Linked DNA regions of Homo sapiens. The protein of the gene in region 1 interacts with the protein of each later gene in a pairwise test. Each region holds a gene or a part of one and is shown in the gene's direction. Other genes may lie near its edges. The genes, in order: HTATIP2, FITM2, SLC18A1 and RAB5A.

Region 1 (4,756 bases):
TAAAGAATATAAAATATTATATAATACAAAAACCATCAAATGCATCATATTATGCATTTGTATGGCTACGGGACTGCAGGAATATATTTAGTAAACAGGAATGATTGGAAAGGTAATTTCCAATGTCTTCCTCTCTATTAATTATCCAGCAACAAATGGAATGAGATATGGCATCTCCAGCCTTGACTGTCAGCATGGCAGCTTAGCATTGGAAGAGACTTGGAGGCAGTGATTCTTAAACTTTTCCGTCAGTCTCCCTAATGACTGAGCGGAAAGAAGAGCTTTTATTTGTGTAGAGATTTGGAGAAATCTATCCTGAAGCAGTATTCTAGTTACAGACTCAACTTTCTTTTCTTTTTTTTTTTTTTGAGACAGGTTCCCAGGCTGGAGTGCAGTGGCATGATCTTGGCTCGCTGCAGCCTCTGCCCCGCCAAGTAACTGGGACTAGAGGCATGAGCCACCATGCCTGGCTAATTTTTGTATTTTTGGTAGAGATGGGGTTTTGCCATGTTGCCCAGGCTGGTCTCAAACTCCTGAGTTCAAATGATCAGCCCATCTCAGCCTCCCAAAGTGCTGGGATTACAGGTGTGAGCCACTGCGTCTGGCCTCAACTTTCTTAAAAGTCTTAACGTTTTATCTTTTAAAAATTTATGCACATTTTGCTATTCTTAGTACTATACATATCCCTGTTTATTTTAATTTAAAAGGTTTCTATTAACTTACCTTTCAGTTAAATTGATGCTGTTGGAAGATAGGCATGGCTTTGTCTTTGTGTGCCTCCCTTTGCACCCCAGGTGCCCACAGTTTAAGCAGCAGAGCCACAGAGGTCATTCAGCCATAGACTTTTCCTATGTGAAGTCCTTTTACAGAAGTTCATCTCCTTTCTGCTTAAATATCTCCAGCACTACAGAGATTACTATCTCGTTAGCCAACTTTTTCTATTTTGGGTCAGATCTACTTGTCCAAAAGTCTTTACCTTGAAGTGAAATTTATTGTTATGTAAATACAAATTGTTATCAGTTCTGCCTTTTAAAATAACAAAAATACGTCCAGTCTTTCTTTTGCATTGTAGTTTTTAAGACATTTGGAGATTATGACCCCCTTAATTGTATGTTTCCCAGGCATAACACCTTTAAATCCTTGCACCATTCTTTATGGGTTCCTGTGTCTAGCTCCTTCATGACTGCATCACTTTGCTAAGGGTGAACTTTGCAGTGATATTATACTGGAACTGCACTGGGAGTACTATTCATGCTCCGAACACTATGTTTTTTTAAAAAAATAGGATATAAGATTGTTACTATTTTACCAAACATCCTTATTATGTTGTTGGCTCATGATCAGCCTGTAATATTAAAAATTTCCAGATTTTTTTCACATGGCTTATAGCTGAGCCATATCTCACCTATCCTAAAATAGTATTTTGAACCAGATGAAGATCAGTGAGCCACCAATGAAATTACATGAAGAATGGAAAAGTTTCCACTTAATTGTCAGAGTTTAGAACAATTCTTAAAAGGAAAAAATCTGTTTTCCTTTTTTTTTAGAGTCAAAGTCTTGCTCTGTCACCCAGGTTGAAGTGCAGTGGTGCGGTCACAGCTCACTACAACCTCAGATTCCTGGGCTCAAACAATCTCCAGCCTCAACCTCCTGAGCAGCTGGGACTACAGGCATGAGGGATCAGGCCCAACTTGTTTTTTAAAACACTGACACATGTGGGTTCTGAGAAAGGTTATCAAATAGGATTTTTGCTCTCATTAGCAAGATCAACATTTATACCTTTTAGGAAAGAAAATATACATAAGATATTTCCTCATTGTTAAAGATAAAGGCGTTACTACTGACTCACTGGGTTATAATAATGATTTAACCAGATTTTTAAAAAAATAGCTAACACTAAATGAGCCAGGCAGTATTCTGAGGGCTTTTATGTGCATTTGCGTGGAAACAGGTACTGTGATATTAAGACCACCAGCTGTTGGCTGGGCACGGTGGCTCACGCCTGTAATTCTAGCACTTTGGGAGGCCGAGGTGGGAAGATCACTTGAGGCTGGGAGTTTGAAACCAGCCTGGGAAACGTGGCAAAACCCTGTCTGTACTAAAAATACAAAAATTAACTGGCACAGTGGTGTATGCCTGTAATCCCAGCTACTCGGGAGGCTGAGGCAGGAGAATTGCATGAACCCGGGAAGCAGAGGCTGCAGTGAGCCAAGATCACATCACTGCACTCCAGCTTGGGGACAGAGTGAGACTCTGTCTCAAAAACAAAACAAAACAAAACAAACAACAACAACAACAACAACAACAAAAACACCAGCTGTTAAGCGGCAAAGCTAGAGCTTGAACCCAGGCTGATTCCAAGGCCTATGCCACTAGCTATTAAGTAATGAATAGCCTTTGTCACTAATACATGCAAAAGGGACCCAGCAGAGATTGGACCGTGACAGAGCCTCAGCAAATATTAAGGCCAATACAACGGAAAGACACTTCTGATTTCACTGCAATTGGCCTGCATTACCTGCAGCCTGGGATTATGAATTAGATTAATAAAGGACAGAAATGACAACCAAATGATCCAACCCAGAATGACGCTGAACAATATATAATTGCTTTTACAATTTGGAAAGATTATCTTTCCAAAATAATCCTTCAACTACTGTGTGTAACATTCCTAGTATTTATTGCCTATTTTCTCAGCCTCCATGTGTGTATGAACTCCCCCGCCCCACCCAATTTTAGAAACTCCTTTATTGTTTAGGAACATTTATTCTACTCAATGAAGTTTCAATTGCATTCATTCATGGTGGGCCAGCTCTGGGGGCTTGGATCAATCATGTGCTTTATGGGCATTCTGCTGGTGCCGTGGGGAGACGTGTCAGGATGTGGAGCCCAGAGTACTGGATGGGCCTCATGTCCTCTGTTCTCAGGGTTTATAAGCTTTGGTTTCCTCATCTATTCAGGGTGAAGGTATACTTTCCAGACATGTGACATTTTATTATTGGGTATCATCCTTGACCTCAAGGAGTTTATAATCTGCTTGTATTGAGGGATCCTCAAAGACACCCCCAAGTTTGGTAATTCACTAGAAGGTTTCATAGGACTCAGCATATAGTCATACTCACAGCTACAACTTATCGCATTGAAAGGATATAGAGCAAAATCAGCAAAGGGAAAAGGTGTGTCGGGTGAAGTCTGGAGGAAAGTAGGTACAAGCTTCCAAGAGGCCTCTCCCCATAGAGCTTGCACAGGATGTGCTTAATGTCTCCAGCGATGAACGTTTTCTGCCAGAGAAACTCATCTGAGCCTAGGAATGCAGGGTTTTTATGGGAGCCAGTTACATAGGCACATTGGCCTAGCCAAATTGCAGCCCTCCAGAAGAAAGGCAAGTTTTCAGCATAAACCACATTGTTTGTACAGACAGTTTAGGCATAGTACATGACCCTTATCAGATAGGGAATGGTGGGAACACACCGAAAATCCAAGGTTGCAAGCACAAGCCAGGGGCCAAACTTGTAACAGGCCTTTCTAAGGATAGCAGTCTCAGCCTGCTATGGTATCTCTTTTATGCACACTGCTAATAGAGACAAAACAAATCTTTTAAAAAGCTAAGAAATGGGCTGGGCGCGGTGGCTCACGCCTGTAATCCCAGCGCTTTGGGAGGCCGAGGCGGGCGGATCACGAGGTCAGGAGATTGAGACCATCCTGGCTAACACGGTGAAACCCCGTCTCTACTAAAAATACAAAAAATTAGCCGGGCGTGATGGCAGGTGCCTGTAGTCCCAGCTGCTCGGGAGGCTGAGGCAGGAGAACGGCATGAACCCGGGAGGCGGAGCTTGCAGTGAGCTGAGATTGCGCCACTGCACTCCAGCCTGGGCGACAGAGTGAGACTCCATCTCAAAAAAAAAAAAAAAAAAAAGCTAAGAAATGTGTGTACACATAAAATCTTGTGTATGACTGTTCATAGCAGCATTATTTATAATGGCCAAAGAGTGGGAACAACCTAGATAGCCATCGACTGATGAATAGATGAATAAAATGTGATATATTCATGCAATAGAATATTATTCAGCTATAAAAAGAAATGATACATACTACAACATGGGTGAACCTTGAAAATATTATGCTAAGTGTGAGGAGACAGTCACAAAAGACCACGAATTATATGATTTCATTTATATGAAATGTCCAGAATAGGCAAATCTATAGAGATAGAAGGTACATTAGTGGTTGACTAGGTCCCCAGAGGGTAGGGTACGAGGAGTGACTGCTAATGATATGGGATTTCTTTTCAGGGTGATGAAATATTTTAAAACTTAGATCGTGATGAAGGTTACAGAGTTCTGTGTATATACTAAAAACCACCTATTAAAAAAAAAAGAATGGCCAAGCGCGGTGGCTCTCGCCTGTAATCCCAGCACTTTGGGAGGCTGAGGCGGGTGGATCACTTGAGGTCAGGAGTTCGAGACCAGCCTGGTCAACATGGTGACAACCCCGTCACTACTAAAAATACAAAAATTAGCCAGGCATAATGGCGGATGCCTGTAATCCCAGCTACTTGGGAGGCCGAGGCAGGAGAATTGCTTGAACCTGGGAGGTGGAAGTTGCAGTGAGCCAAGATCATGCCCTTGCACTTCAGCCTAGGTGACATGGTGAGACTCTATCACACACAAAAAATACATAAATAAATAAATAATTAAAATTAAAAAATTTTTAAAAAGAAAAAGATATTTAAAAATAGCTACTTAAATGTCTGTGA
Region 2 (4,187 bases), on another chromosome or scaffold:
GGTATGGGAGAAACAGCATGAGTCTGGGGGCTATCCAAACCGTGGTTTAATCTGTTCATGCTGGTTGTGTGAGTGTGACCCTGGCAAGGTACTGAACTTTTCTGAGCCTTAGATTTCTTGTCTATAAAATGGAACAATGGCACCTTCCTCCCAGGGTAAATGTGAGTGCTCTATGGGAAAGTGAATGTGTGTGAAAGCTCCTGGCATTTGGTAAATGCTCAGTTATTATTATTTATTTATATTATTTTCCTAAGTAAATAACATAGTGCTTAAGACGACAGATCCTGGATTTGAATCCTGGCTCCTCCGCTTCTGGCCTCCACTTTTGGTGTGGCACTTCCCTCTGTCTCAGTTTTCTTCTCTGTTAAAGGCAGATATTAACAGTACTTAACTCATAGAGTTGTTTTTTTTCGTTTGTTTTGTTTTGTTTTTGAGATGGAGTCTCGCTCTATCGCCCAGGCTGGAGTGCAGTGGCACAATCTCGGCTCACTGCAAGCTCCGCCTCCCGGGTTCATGCCATTCTCCTGCCTCAGCCTCCCGAGTAGTTGGGACTACAGGCGCCCGCCACCACGCCTGGCTAATTTTTTGTATTTTTGGTAGAGACAGGGTTTCACCATGTTAGCCAGGATGGTCTCGATCTCCTGACCTCGTGATCTGCCCACCTCGGCCTCCCAAACTGCTGGGATTACAGGCGTGAGCCACCGCGCCCGGCCAACTCATAGAGTTGTTAATGGATTACCTGGTTAATACATTTAAAGTACTTACACAGGGGTGGGGTAGGGGAGGAGGGGAGGGCTGGGCACAGTGGCTCATGCCTGTAATCCCAGGACTTTGGGAGGCCAAGGTGGCCGGAGCATTTGAGGCCAGGAGTTCGAGACCAGCCTGGCCAACATGGTAAAACCCCCTCTCTACTAAAAATACAAAAATTAGCCAGGCGGGGTGATGCGCACCTGTAATCCCAGCTACTTGGGAGGCTGAGGCAGGAGGATTGCTTGAACCCGGGAGGCGGAGGTTGCAGTGAGCTGAGATTGCGCCACTGCACTCCAGCCCGAGTGACAGAGCGAGACTCTGTCTCAAAAATAAATAAATAAATAAATAAATAAAGTACTTAGTAAGTGAAGTATATGGTAAGTACCTAAAACATGATAGTTGCTATGAGCTGTAGCTTTGATCAGTTTTCTCATTTTCCCTCCCCTGACAGTGTAGAGACCTGAGTCCTGACATGGTGTCCTCTCCACCGTGTTCCCTCTCTTCACTTCCACTTTCCTCCTCTGTCAGGTATTTTGTCAAAGTGGCCTGGGCCTGGACGTTCTGTCTCCTTCTGCCTTTCATTGCCCTCACCAACTACCATCTGACCGGCAAGGCTGGCTTGGTCCTGCGGCGGCTGAGCACCCTGCTTGTGGGCACGGCCATCTGGTACATCTGCACCTCCATCTTCTCCAACATCGAACACTACACGGGCAGCTGCTACCAGTCCCCAGCCCTGGAGGGGGTCAGAAAGGAACACCAGAGCAAGCAGCAGTGCCACCAGGAAGGGGGCTTTTGGCATGGCTTTGACATCTCAGGTCACTCCTTCCTGCTGACCTTCTGCGCCCTCATGATTGTAGAAGAGATGTCTGTGCTGCATGAGGTGAAGACGGACCGAAGCCACTGCCTCCACACCGCCATCACCACCCTGGTTGTGGCCCTGGGCATTCTGACTTTCATCTGGGTGTTGATGTTTCTGTGCACAGCTGTTTATTTCCACAACTTGTCCCAGAAGGTGTTTGGCACCTTGTTTGGTTTGCTGAGCTGGTACGGGACATACGGGTTTTGGTATCCGAAAGCCTTTTCCCCAGGACTTCCTCCCCAGAGCTGTAGTTTGAATTTGAAGCAAGATAGTTACAAGAAATAAAAGAGTAACAGAGGGGGGACAGAAGGACAATGGCTAATCTATTTTTCAAATATATATTTTGCTTAGTTATTTGGCTAAATTATTGATCCTACTTCAGAGGGAAAGTGTACCAGGCAGTTTTGGTGGGTGGTGCTGAAGTCTGGGGAGTGAGTTTAGTCTTCAGACTATTCTTGGCGACATCACCAGTGTTGCAAGCACCACCATTCCCAGTTAGGCACTTTTTGTCCCTGGTAAGACTTGACCTTTATCTGGAACACTCCTTTTGTCCCTAGAGTGGGGACCTAAGGCTCAGCAAAAGGGCAGAATCAGGAAAGCCTTTATGGTGTGGCTAAAGGAGTGGCCAGAGCCTTGGGACTCCTTTGCTGCCTTCTCCCTGGTTCCAGTTGTCTTTAGATTTTCACGGCTCTTACTGCTGTTACTTAACAGTATTTTCCAGCCAGGCATGGTGGTTCACACCTCTAATCCCTGCACTTTGGGAGGCCGAGGCAGGCGGATCACCTGAGATTGGGAGTTCGAGACCAGCCTGTCCAACATGGCGAACCTCGTCTCTTCTAAAAATACAAAAATTAGCTGGGTGTGGTGGCACATGCCTGTAATCCCAGCTACTCAGGAGGCTGAGGCAGGAGAATTGCTTGGACCTAGGAGGTGGAGGTTGCAGTGAGCTGAGATCGCACCACTGCACTCCAGCCTGGGTGACAGAGCAGACTCCACCTCAAAAAAGAAAAAACAAAACAAAACAGTATTTCCCACTGGTCAGTTTTGCATAGGCATCTATTTCAGGCAGGGTTTTTTTCTTTTTTTTGAGATGGAGTTTTGCTCTTGTTGCCCAGGCTGGGGTGCAATGGCCCGATCTCGGCTCACCGCAACCTCCACCTCCCAGGTTCAAGCGATTCTCCTGCCTCAGCCTCCCGAGTAGCTGGGATTACAGGCATGCGTCACCACACCAGGCTAATTTTGTATTTTTAGTAGAGATGGGGTTTCTCCATGTTGGTCAGGCTGGTCTCAAACTCCTGACCGCAGGTGATCCACCTGCCTCGGCCTCCCAAAGTGCTGGGATTACAGGCATGAGCCACCGCGCCCGGCTCAGGCAGGGTTCTTTATAAAAACAGCCTGATGCCTGAAGGACACTCTCTGGTTGTAATATTTGTTTCATCCATGAAGTGTTTAAATATTGCAACTGACTTGCGATTAGCCACCAAAACAGGCCCTTTTAGATGCAGTGCCTCTCCGACCAAGTATTGGATGATTCATACGTAATGGACTATGATCATTTTCTGTCCATGTTTTCTATTACTATATGCTGGTTTTTTTGGAGCAATAAGATTACTTTTTTTCTGTTCTATTTTGAGCGAATCCTTTACAGTTTTTGATAAGAACTGTGACATTTGTTCTTTGTTGATAAAACTCCTGAAAATAACTCACAAGGCCAGTGCTGCACTCTGGCACATGTAGGTTGTTTTGAGGGTTTGTTGGTTGGTTGGTTGGCTGGTTGATTGGTTGGTTGGTTTAGAACACTAATGTACTTGTTATGAACCAAACTCTGGTCTTACAGTCTTAAATTCCACCTCATGGGGCTGTTTTCTCTGTTAGCAATGAAACCTGGGCCAGGTGTAGTGGCTCACACCTATAATCCTGGCACTTTGGGAGGCTGAGGTGGGAGGATTACTGGATCCCAGGAGTTTGAGACCAGCCTGGGCAACATAGTGAGACCCTGGTTTCTATAAATAAATAAGATAATCAAACCAGAAAGCAGGCATTTTAGTAACAGCCTGTTGAATTTTAAGGTGAATCAAGGTAATTTTGCAGAATGCGTTCTTGCACCGAAATGTCCCTGACCACATATCAGTGGTATAGACTGAACAGTGTGCTTCAGGGTCATGTGCTGAGTGCACTGATCACTCTGCTGTGGCCCAGGGCATCTGTACCTGTTGGACAAGATTATGATAATTCAGAAGTGAAGTAAAATGCCTCCCTCTGATGGCAAAAAGCCAACCTGTTTGCAAAATCACCCTTATTGAAGGGTGGCATGGCTGTGGTCCCTCCCTCCTGTTACTTGCATCACCAACCAAACTAAACCAAACCATACCTGGGCCTGTTCAGCTGGACTTGAAATCAGTTTCCTTTTTCTCTCCCCTTTGCAGCACTTTTCAGTTTCCAGCTTTGTCATTCTGTGGCCTTTGCTGTGACAATGCTGGGAAGGGTTAGAAATCCTGTCACCTCCATCCACAAAGGCACAGTTCCACGCCCTGTGATAAGATATCCCCTCTTCTCTCCCAGACTGTCTCCTTAAGCC
Region 3 (4,756 bases), on another chromosome or scaffold:
AATCTTTAGAGTCAATTCCTAGAAGTGGGACTGTTGGGTCAAAGGGTTTATTGTACTTTTAAATGTATATTTTAATGATTTACATCAGTTTCTTTACTTCGAATAATAATTGGGTAAGCGAATGATCTCTTTAGTTTTAGGATCTCTAAATTTATCAATCCACTATTGTGTGTGTGCAGAGAGGGTTATCATACCAAAATGATCCAATCTATTACAAGATAGAAAGTAGTAAACACCATGAAGGATTAGGACATAGTGTTCAGGATGTCTGGAAGAGAGAGAAGCCCCAGCTACTGAGTCAGGGAGCTCTCTAGAAAAGAAGGAGCCATTTAAGCTTGACTTTAAAGAGTGGGTAGAACATGGAACTATGGAGAAGCTCAGAACGTGTAGTTTAGGCAAAGGCAATAATGATGGCTGAGGCACTGCTGGGATGCTTGGAAAGAGGGTGGGGCGACCAAGTTTAGATGAGAGTGTGTCCTGACGAGAGTGGGTCCTGGATGTTTAGGCTGTATTTTAACCCTGCTTCTTCTACCTTAGTTCAGTGTGGCTCAAAATGATCAGAATGAAGAATTCAGAAAGCTTGAGAGGCTTTCTGAGTTATGGCTTCTGTGCTTGCTTTTGGGATTCGGTGCTCTGCCTGTGGTTCTCCCAGGACAAATATTAGTACCAGGGAGATCTAGTGGAAACCAGGAGTCCAGACATCTATTGTCCAACCCTGACCTTGCTACCAATCCACTCTGACCTTGTTGATGGTCACGTGAACGCAGGAACCATGGCTGGAATATGTTGCTTCTCTATCTGTGACTATTACAGTGCCTACCTTTCACACAGGAGGGGTCCTGCCTCCAGCTTCCTCTGTGGCATCAGACAAGTCACTTTCTCTCCCTGTACTGGGGTTCCTGGTCTCTGCAGTAAAGGAGATACTGTAGATGGTCTCTAAGCCCATAATTGTACTTTCTCAGATTCTGTGAAAATAGGAGAGATGTATGCACTGTACAAATGGACATTTTTTGTTATCCATGTTCTCAGAGTGCCAAGGGGACTCCCCTCTTTATGCTTCTCAAAGACCCTTACATCCTGGTGGCTGCAGGTAAGCTGGCGATGACCTCCCATTGGGCGGGGAGTGTCTGGGCTTCAAGCAGCCACGGCTGCTCACAGAACAGTCTCCCCAGGGTCCATCTGCTTTGCCAACATGGGGGTGGCCATCCTGGAGCCCACACTGCCCATCTGGATGATGCAGACCATGTGCTCCCCCAAGTGGCAGCTGGGTAAGTGACCTCAGCACCCCCGCTCAGGGCCTGGCAGGAGGAGGTGGGTGCCATGAGTCCTTTCGTTCAATGTCACACAGGGACAACATGCTTCCTTTGTAGAATGACCTCCCACGTCCACACCCATGAATCAAGCCCAAGAGGGTGTGTGGTCCCTCAGAGAAGCAGTCTGAGAAAGGGGAGGGTGAGAGAGGATGAAAGGGGCTATGGAGAGGTCACATACCTAGCTGTGTAGTAGGATGATTAATGATTTCCAGTCCAAAGATTCAGGTTTTGGTTTCAGCTCCTTTGATTTTCTGTGAAAACTTGTGCAGATGCCTTAAACCCTCTGAGCATCACTTTTCTCATTGCTAAAATGAGCATCAAAATACTATCTAGTTCAAGAGAAATTGGATGAATAAATGACATATGAGGTGAAAATGCTTTGTACCCTGTACAATATTAATGTGCACCATTACCATCCACATTCTCCTCCCTTCAGCTCCTCATCCTCAAGACTACCCTTTGGTTATCTTTTTTACCTCTAAAAAGGGGTGTATGTAGCACTCACTTAGGAAAAGCTATGGGCCCAGGAGAGAGGGTTCCAGCTTCCTTTGTTCATGCAGCGACTTAGAGAGGAGCTTGGAGAGGAGGATCTAGCCCTTCCCAGGAACCCTGAGGAAAGAGGACAGGGAAGGCTACGTGCAAATTGCTCCATCACTGCAGGGAGGAGAGGCTTACGGGGCCAGAGGGGAAGCTGATAAGAACATGATATAGTTCAGCATGCAATAAAAAGCACTAAATCTAATTTTGGGGGGGCAATTCTAAGCAAGACTCCCAGCTGCACTCCTAGTGCCAAATTGAATTTTTATGGGTTGCAAGTGCTTTTGACCATGACGATTAATTGAGTTAGTCGGTATTCAGTGCAGATAATTCATCGCCTGCCCTAAGGCTCTGACCACTCAGGGTCTCGATACTAGTGAGCAGCTACAACACAGAGCAGCTCCTCCCCAGCAGCCTAGGGACCATTCTCAGTTGCCAGTTACCAATTACTCAGTTACCAGTCACTCAGTTGCCACCATCTTTTACAGCTTTCTCAATGCTATCTGGTCTGTAAAGTCTGACATCAAAGGTTGTCCAACAACTACATCAGAATCACCTAGAGAGCTTGTTAAAACTCTGATTGCTGGGAGACAGTAGGCAATTTAGTCAAAACAAGTTTTCATCCCTAGTAAGTCTGCAGGTGATGCTAATATAGCTGGTCAGTGATCACACCTAGAAAATCGCTGCTGTACATGAAGAGCATCCCTCAAAGGTGTTGGGAGCCAAAGGAGTCCATGCTTTTGAAAGTAATGTGTAGTCTGCCTCTGAGTGCTTGCTATGTGGCCCACCATATACTAGGTAGCATCACCAAGGGGAGGAAATAGCCCAGGTCCACCTGGGTTTGAATGCTGACCACGTCACTTACTGATTGTGACCTCGGATAAGTTATTTAACCTCTTTGACCTCTGATATGGTGTGAATGTGTCCCCCAAAATTTATATGTTGCAAATTGAATCCCCAGTGCAACAGTCTTGAGAAGTGGGACCTTTGAGAGATGATGAGATCATGGGAGCACCCTCATGAATGGATTAAGGCCATTATCATGGGAGTGAGTTTGTCATAATAAAAGGGGAGTTCAGCTCCCTTTACATCTCTCTCATGTGTGCTCTCTCTCCATGTGACCCCCTTTGGCCATGTTATGATCCAGCAACCAGGCACTCCCCAGGTGGCCAAACAGACACTAGAGGCTTGCCTTTGAACTTCTTAACCTCCAGAACCCTGAGCCAAATAAATCTCTTTCATTGATAAATCATGCACTCTGGTATTCTGTTATATTATAGCAGCAGAAAATGGACTAAGACAGAAAATGGGTAATGAGAAACCGGGCTGCTGCTATAACAAATACTTGAAAATATGGAAGCAGCTTTGGAACTGGAAAATTGGTAGAGGCTGCAATAATTTGGAGGAGCAGGCTAGAAAGAGCCTGTATTGCTGTGGTTAAGGCATTAAGGGTGATTCTGGTGAGGGCTCAGAAGAAGAGGAGAGCTATAGAGAAAGTCTGAATCTTTTTAGACATTGGTTAAGAGGTTGTGACCAGAATGTTGATAGAAATATGGACAGTGAAGGTCATTCTGACGAGGTCTCAGATAGAAATGAGGAACAAGGTATTGGACACTAGAGTAAAGGCCATCCTTGTTATACAGTTACAAAAAACTTGGCAGACTTGTATCCATAACCTAGGACTTCATGGAATGAAGAACTTAGAGGCAATAAACTAGGATATCTGGCAGAAGAAATATCTAAGCAGCAAAGCTTCAGGCTGCTTTGTGGCTGTTTTAACTGCATATATAGTGACATGTGAAAGCAAAGAAATGATTTAAAGGTGAAATTTATGGTTAAAAGAGAAACAAAACAGAAAGACTTGGAAAATTTGCTGCCTGGCCTTGGAAAGAAAGAAAAGGCATCTTTAGGAGAGCACACCAAGACTGTGGCCAAGCAACCTAAAGTGATTAGTGTGGATAAAAGTGAGCCAGGCACCACTTATTAAGACTGTGGGAGAAAGACCCAAAGGCATTTTAGAGACCTTCGAAGCTGTGCTTCCCATTACTGGCCCAGAGATGTAGGAGGGCAGAATGGTTTGGGAATAAGCCTGGGACACCCTCCATGGGCTCACTGCCCAGGACCACCTTGGGACTCTGCTCTCTGCGTTTCAGTGCAGTGCCCCTCAACTGTGCCAGCCATGGCTCAAGTGGGCCCAGATGTGGCCTGGCCTCCCACTCTGGAGGGTGCAAGTGGTAAGCCTTGGTGGTGTCTATGTGGTGCAAATTTTGCACGTGCGCAGAATGCAAGAGCTATGGGTGCATGACTTCTTCCACCTAAATTTCAAAAGATGCCATGCACAGCCACTTCCAAGATCACGGAACTGTAGGGGCACCAGCATGGTGGCCTGCAAGCACAAGACTCCAACCCATGATTGCTGCTGGGTAGACTCAGCCCGGAAAGACCACAGACATGGGGCTGCCTGATGCCTTAGGGGTCCAAACTCCACTCCAGTGTGCCCAGGATTTTGGACATGGAGTCAAAGGCAATTATTCTCCAGCTTTAAGACATAATATTGTTTTCTGTTTTGGGCTTTGGACTTTCGTGGGACCTGTTACCCCTTTCTTCTTCCCTGTTGCTTCCTTTTGAAATAAGAATGCCTGTTCTATCTTTGTTCCACCATTATTTTTGAAAGTAGGTAAATTATCCCTTGGTGTGCATAGGAGAGTGGTTCTAGGACTCCTCACGGATACCAAACTCAAAGGATGTTCAAGTCCCTTACATAGAATGGCATCGTATTTGCATATAATCTACACACGTACTTCCATGTACTATAATCATTTCTCAATGACTTGTAACACCTAATGCAATGGAAATGCTATATAAATAGTTGTTATACTGTATTATTTTCTTTTTTGTATTATTTT
Region 4 (4,756 bases), on another chromosome or scaffold:
ATTTTTGTATTTTTAGTAGAGATGGGGTTTCACCATGTCGGTCGGGTTGGTCTTGAACTCCTGGCCTCAAGTGATCTGCCTACCTCGGGCTCTCCAAGTGCTGGGATTACAGGCATGAGCCACTGCCCCTGGCCCAACTTTCTGTTAATCTTTATTGGATACTTTTTCACTGTGCTGACCCCATGTGAATACTATTCAGGAGGTATGACAGTACCATTATGGTTATAGCTGTGGACACTATTCTTTTATGCTCTGTACTCATAGCTCTTCACCTTTAGGAACTAGAGTAGATGTAAAGCATTTAAGAATTTTAAGGTTTGAGCTATTTCATGATCAACCTGAAAGGGCCATAACTTGTAGGTAATACGTATTTTTGTTTTGACTGTCATGTGGTAGAAGTTACCTGAAAAATGAAGCCAACCAACTCTTTTGCATTTCAACTGTTGGTTTATTTTTTTTGAGACGGAATTTCACTACGTGGCCCAGGTTGGAGTGCAGTGGTGTGATCTAGGTTGACTGCAACCTCTACTTCCCAGGTTCAGGCAGTTCTCCTGCCTCAGCCTCCTGAGTAGCTGGGATTACAGGCCCACACCACCAATCCCAGTGAACTTTTGTATTTTTAGTAGAGACAGGGTTTTGCCATCTTGGCCAGGCTGGTCTCAGACTCCTGACCTCAAGTGATCCACCTGCCTCGGCCTCCCAAAGTGCTGGAATTATAGGCGTGAACCTCCACGCCTGGCCTCAACTGTTTAATTTTTCACTTTACTGTTTATATCTCCTAACATGAGTTATTGTTCTGAAGCACTCAAAATTTTAATCTCTATTTGATTGTGTTCGAAGGTGGATATCATATGTTACACTCTTGATTTGTGGATTCTGGATTCATTAAGAATATCAAGATTTCTTCTGTAATTTGTGTGGTTCTTCCTAAATACAATAACTTGATTTACGAATTCCTGTTGCGCTGTGTGCGGTGGCTTGCATCTGTAATCCCAGCACTTTGGGAAGCTGAGGTGGGCAGATCGCTTGAGTCCAGGAGTTTGAGACCAGCCTGGCCAACATAGCAAAACCCCGTCTTTACAAAAAATACGAAAATTAACCGGGCATGGTGGCACACACCTGTAGTCCCAGCTACTGAGAAGGCTGAAATGGGAGAATTGCTTGAACTGAAGAGGCGGAGGTTACAGTGAGCCGAGACTGCACCACCACACTCCAGCCTGGGTGACAGTGAGAACCCTGTCTCAAAAACAAAACAAAACAAAGAATCCCTGTTGCCTCACCATACTTCATGCATCCTACCCCTATAGCACTTCTGATGAAATTGCGTGCCGTAGATTTAGCAATTTAGAGAATTCTAGCTTGTTTGTATGGGTTTAAAGTTTGCATGACATTTATGTTTCTATTGTTGGTCTAAAGTTAGCCCAGAGATTAGCAGGGAGCAGTAGGCTCAGAGAGTTGTCTTCCTTCTTTACTTGGTACTGCATCTCTAGGCTTGGTAGCTCTTCAGTAAATACTCTCAAAAAATACTTATTTTTAAGAAGACATTTATGTGATATTTATAAACAAATTAATCCTCAGTGGTTAGAATATGCAGTGAAATAGCAAGCAGACAATCCTTTTTTTCTCTTCTGAGAAAAGTGCTTCATACCACAGTTACAATTTTGTATGCACTAATCAAAAAATGTGTTATAAACTCTAAAGTTTAGATGATGGAACTGTACATGAAAATAACATTCCTCTTGCTGGTTCTGTGATTTTTGTACATTAGCTTAGAACAGTGGTCCTCAAAGAGCGTTCCCACTTCCAGAAGTAGCTGCATTAACTAGGAACTTGTTAAAATGTAGAATCCCGTGTTGAATCAAAACATTTGGGTGGGACCAACAATCTAGGTTTTAATAAGTTTTCCAGATGATTCTAATGGCATGTTACGTTTGAGTAGTTGATTTTACATTGGTACTAACATTGATTCACCCATACATGGAATAATTGGGGGGTTTTTTTGAGGTGTGGTGTTTGTCAGATTTTTAAAAACATTGTTGACTGGGCGCGGTAGCTCATACCTGTAATCCCAACACTTTGGGAGGCTGAGGCGGGCGGATCACGAGGTCAGGAGTTCGAGACCAGCTTGCCAATGTGATGAAACCCTGTCTCTGCTAAAAATACAAAAATTAGCCAGGCATGGTGGCGTGCGCCTGTAGTCCCAGCTACTTGGGAGGCTGAGGCAGGAGATTCGCTTGAACCCAGGAGGCGGAGGAGGTTGTTGCAATGAGCCGAGATCATGCCATTGCACTCCAGCCTGGGTGTCTCAGCGAGACTCCGTCTTAAAAAAAAAATTGTTCATGCAACTAACCTAGTTTGAGAATTACATGTATTATGTACTGCTCACATTACATGTTATCTGTATCTCTTTATAGGAGAATGCCTTCCTGTTAGCCACCTGCCAGACATCTTTAGGAAAGTATGATCCCTCTGTCCAATCAAGAGTATTCTGCTTTTTCTCTACTTAGGGAGTACCCATAGTTTTCAGTCATCTGTACCACTGCTGCTCTCCTTTCTTGTCACAAATGATCAAGGCCTGATAATACACAAAATTAATTAAGAAATTTAGTGTAGGCCGGGCGCAGTGGCTCATGCCTGTAATCCCAGCACTTTGGGAGGGTGCCAGCACACTGGCAGATCACGAGGTCAGGAGTTCGAGACCAGCCTGGCCAACATGGTAAAAATACCAGAATTAGCTAGGCGTGGTGGTGGGTGCCTATAACCCCAGCTACTCAGGATGCTGAGGCAGGAGAAACATTTGAACCCAGGAAGCGGAGGTTGCAGTGAGCCGAGATCGCGCCATTGCACTCCAGCCTGGGCGACAGGGCGAGACTCCGTCTCAAAAAAAAGGAAATTTAGTGCAATTATTAACTCTTAAGTGAAGTGCTGTTTCTACTTACATATTTAACATCCATCTAAATTGGTTAGCATGGCCAACTAGTTGTTTTTAGTCTAAAACAACCTGTAACAGGAATAAAAGTTACTGTTAAAATGAAGAAAAACAAGGCTTATTTCAAAGTTATTATTAACATACTATTTTACCTAACAATTTATGGCCAAGTCATTCTAAAGAATAAACTATTGTGGTTAAGAGAGACTGTATCCAGATTGAAGTTTTTACCACAATGCCTGGCACAGTAAAAGGTTTATTAAATTATAGCTATTACAGTTACCATCACCACTGTTAACTTTTGGCTGAATCGTTTTGTCATTGTTGATATTTTTGTTGTTTGGTCATGACATACTATTATCTTGAGATGGTAGCTGTTACACCTAGTGCATAGCGTTTGATTTAGAAAATTTGAAGATTTGAAAAATTTTGTGTTTTTTTTCCTTTTTTTTTTTTTTTTTAAACAGCCTGCTCTGTTGCCCAGGCTGGTGTACAGTGGTGGCATCAAAGCTCACTGCAGCCTTGACGTGGCCTCAAGTGGTCCTCCCAGGTAGCTGGGACTGACTATAGGCATGCACCCCACACTTGGCTAATTTTTTATTTTTTTGTAGGGACAGATCTCACTGTTGGTGCCTAAGCTGGTCTCAAACTCCTGGGCTACAGCAGTCCTCCCACCTCAGCCTCCCAAGGTGCTGGGATGAAAGGTGTAAGCCACTGTGCCCAGCCCAACTGTGTTATTTGTGGAAGTTTCTCAGAGGGAGAAATTACAGGGCTAAAGTACTACACGTGTGCATATATTAAAGTTTTTTCCAGTAACTACTTAATAATGTGTACTTGAAAACTGCTAAATTCTTAAATGTCCTCACCATTAAAAAATAGTAAGTGCCGGGTGCATGGCTCATGCCTGTAATCCCAACACTTTGGGAGGCCAAAGTGGTCAGATCGCTTGAGACCAGCCTGGCCAACATGGCCAAACCCCATCCTTACTAAAAAAAAAAAAAAAAGCAAACATTAGCTGGGCGTGGTCGCGCATGCCTGTAATTCCAGCTACTCGGGAGGCTGAGGCATGAGTATTGCTTGAACCTGGGAGGCAGAGGTTGCAGTGAGCCCAGATAGCGCCACTGCATTCCAGCCTGAGCAACAGAGTGAGACTCTGTCGCGGAGGTTGCAGTGAGCTGAGATAGCACCACTGCACTCCAGCCTGAGCAACAGAGTGAGACTCTGTCTCAAAAAAAAAAAAAAAGGTAAGTAGGCGAGGTGATCAATATTGAATTACCTTGATTTAGTCACCTCACAATGTGTACATGTATCAAAACATCATGTTAATATACATATGTATATATTGTAAATACATAACGATTTTTATTTTTCAACAATACCTTAATAAAGCTGGGGGGAATAAAGTTACTTCCTAAACAGAAAAGCTAGCCAGAAAATTTAAATCCAAATAACTCATGTTTTTCCAGTAGTAGAAAGCTTTCTACAATTGCCCTTCACTTGTTAGCCTTCAGAATGACTTCTTTGTATAATTATAATCTGTGCATTTATTTAATGTGCTTTTACCTTTTTGCATGTGCACATTGTTAAAAGTGCTTTTGAGAAAGGATAGAAGACCTAGAGACCAAACCACCAGCATGTGGTTTTTGATTCGTGAGAAAAATTGTGTGTTTGAAGTATTCATTCTACTTTCTGATACATTGATAGTTAAAATTTGTGGAAGTTAATCATTTGGTTTCAAGCAAAATAATAATATCTTTGTTCATCATATTTTCTCCTAAAAAGTACATATTCAGAATTTGAGAGGTTGTTACCCAGAGAAGTTGGTAG

Evidence for each region.
Region 2: the proteins of HTATIP2 (region 1) and FITM2 interact in binary tests that used the Homo sapiens proteins (3 or more experiments, as listed by UniProt).
Region 3: the proteins of HTATIP2 (region 1) and SLC18A1 interact in a two-hybrid assay, tested with the Homo sapiens proteins (one large-scale study listed by BioGRID).
Region 4: the proteins of HTATIP2 (region 1) and RAB5A interact in a protein complementation assay, tested with the Homo sapiens proteins (one study listed by BioGRID).

What each region holds. Positions count from the first base shown.
Region 1 is NC_000011.10:20,376,776-20,381,531, forward strand, and holds part of HTATIP2 (protein HTATIP2), read left to right. Parts: intron 1-4,756. UniProt on the Homo sapiens protein: Represses translation by preventing reactivation of elongation factor eEF1A. May also inhibit nuclear import by competing with nuclear import substrates for binding to a subset of nuclear transport receptors.
Region 2 is NC_000020.11:44,304,332-44,308,518, reverse strand, and holds part of FITM2 (acyl-coenzyme A diphosphatase FITM2), read left to right. Parts: intron 1-1,278; coding exon 1,279-1,894; 3' UTR 1,895-4,187. UniProt on the Homo sapiens protein: Fatty acyl-coenzyme A (CoA) diphosphatase that hydrolyzes fatty acyl-CoA to yield acyl-4'-phosphopantetheine and adenosine 3',5'-bisphosphate.
Region 3 is NC_000008.11:20,161,381-20,166,136, reverse strand, and holds part of SLC18A1 (chromaffin granule amine transporter), read left to right. Parts: intron 1-1,029; coding exon 1,030-1,090; intron 1,091-1,172; coding exon 1,173-1,268; intron 1,269-4,756.
Region 4 is NC_000003.12:19,953,574-19,958,329, forward strand, and holds part of RAB5A (ras-related protein Rab-5A), read left to right. Parts: intron 1-4,756. UniProt on the Homo sapiens protein: The small GTPases Rab are key regulators of intracellular membrane trafficking, from the formation of transport vesicles to their fusion with membranes.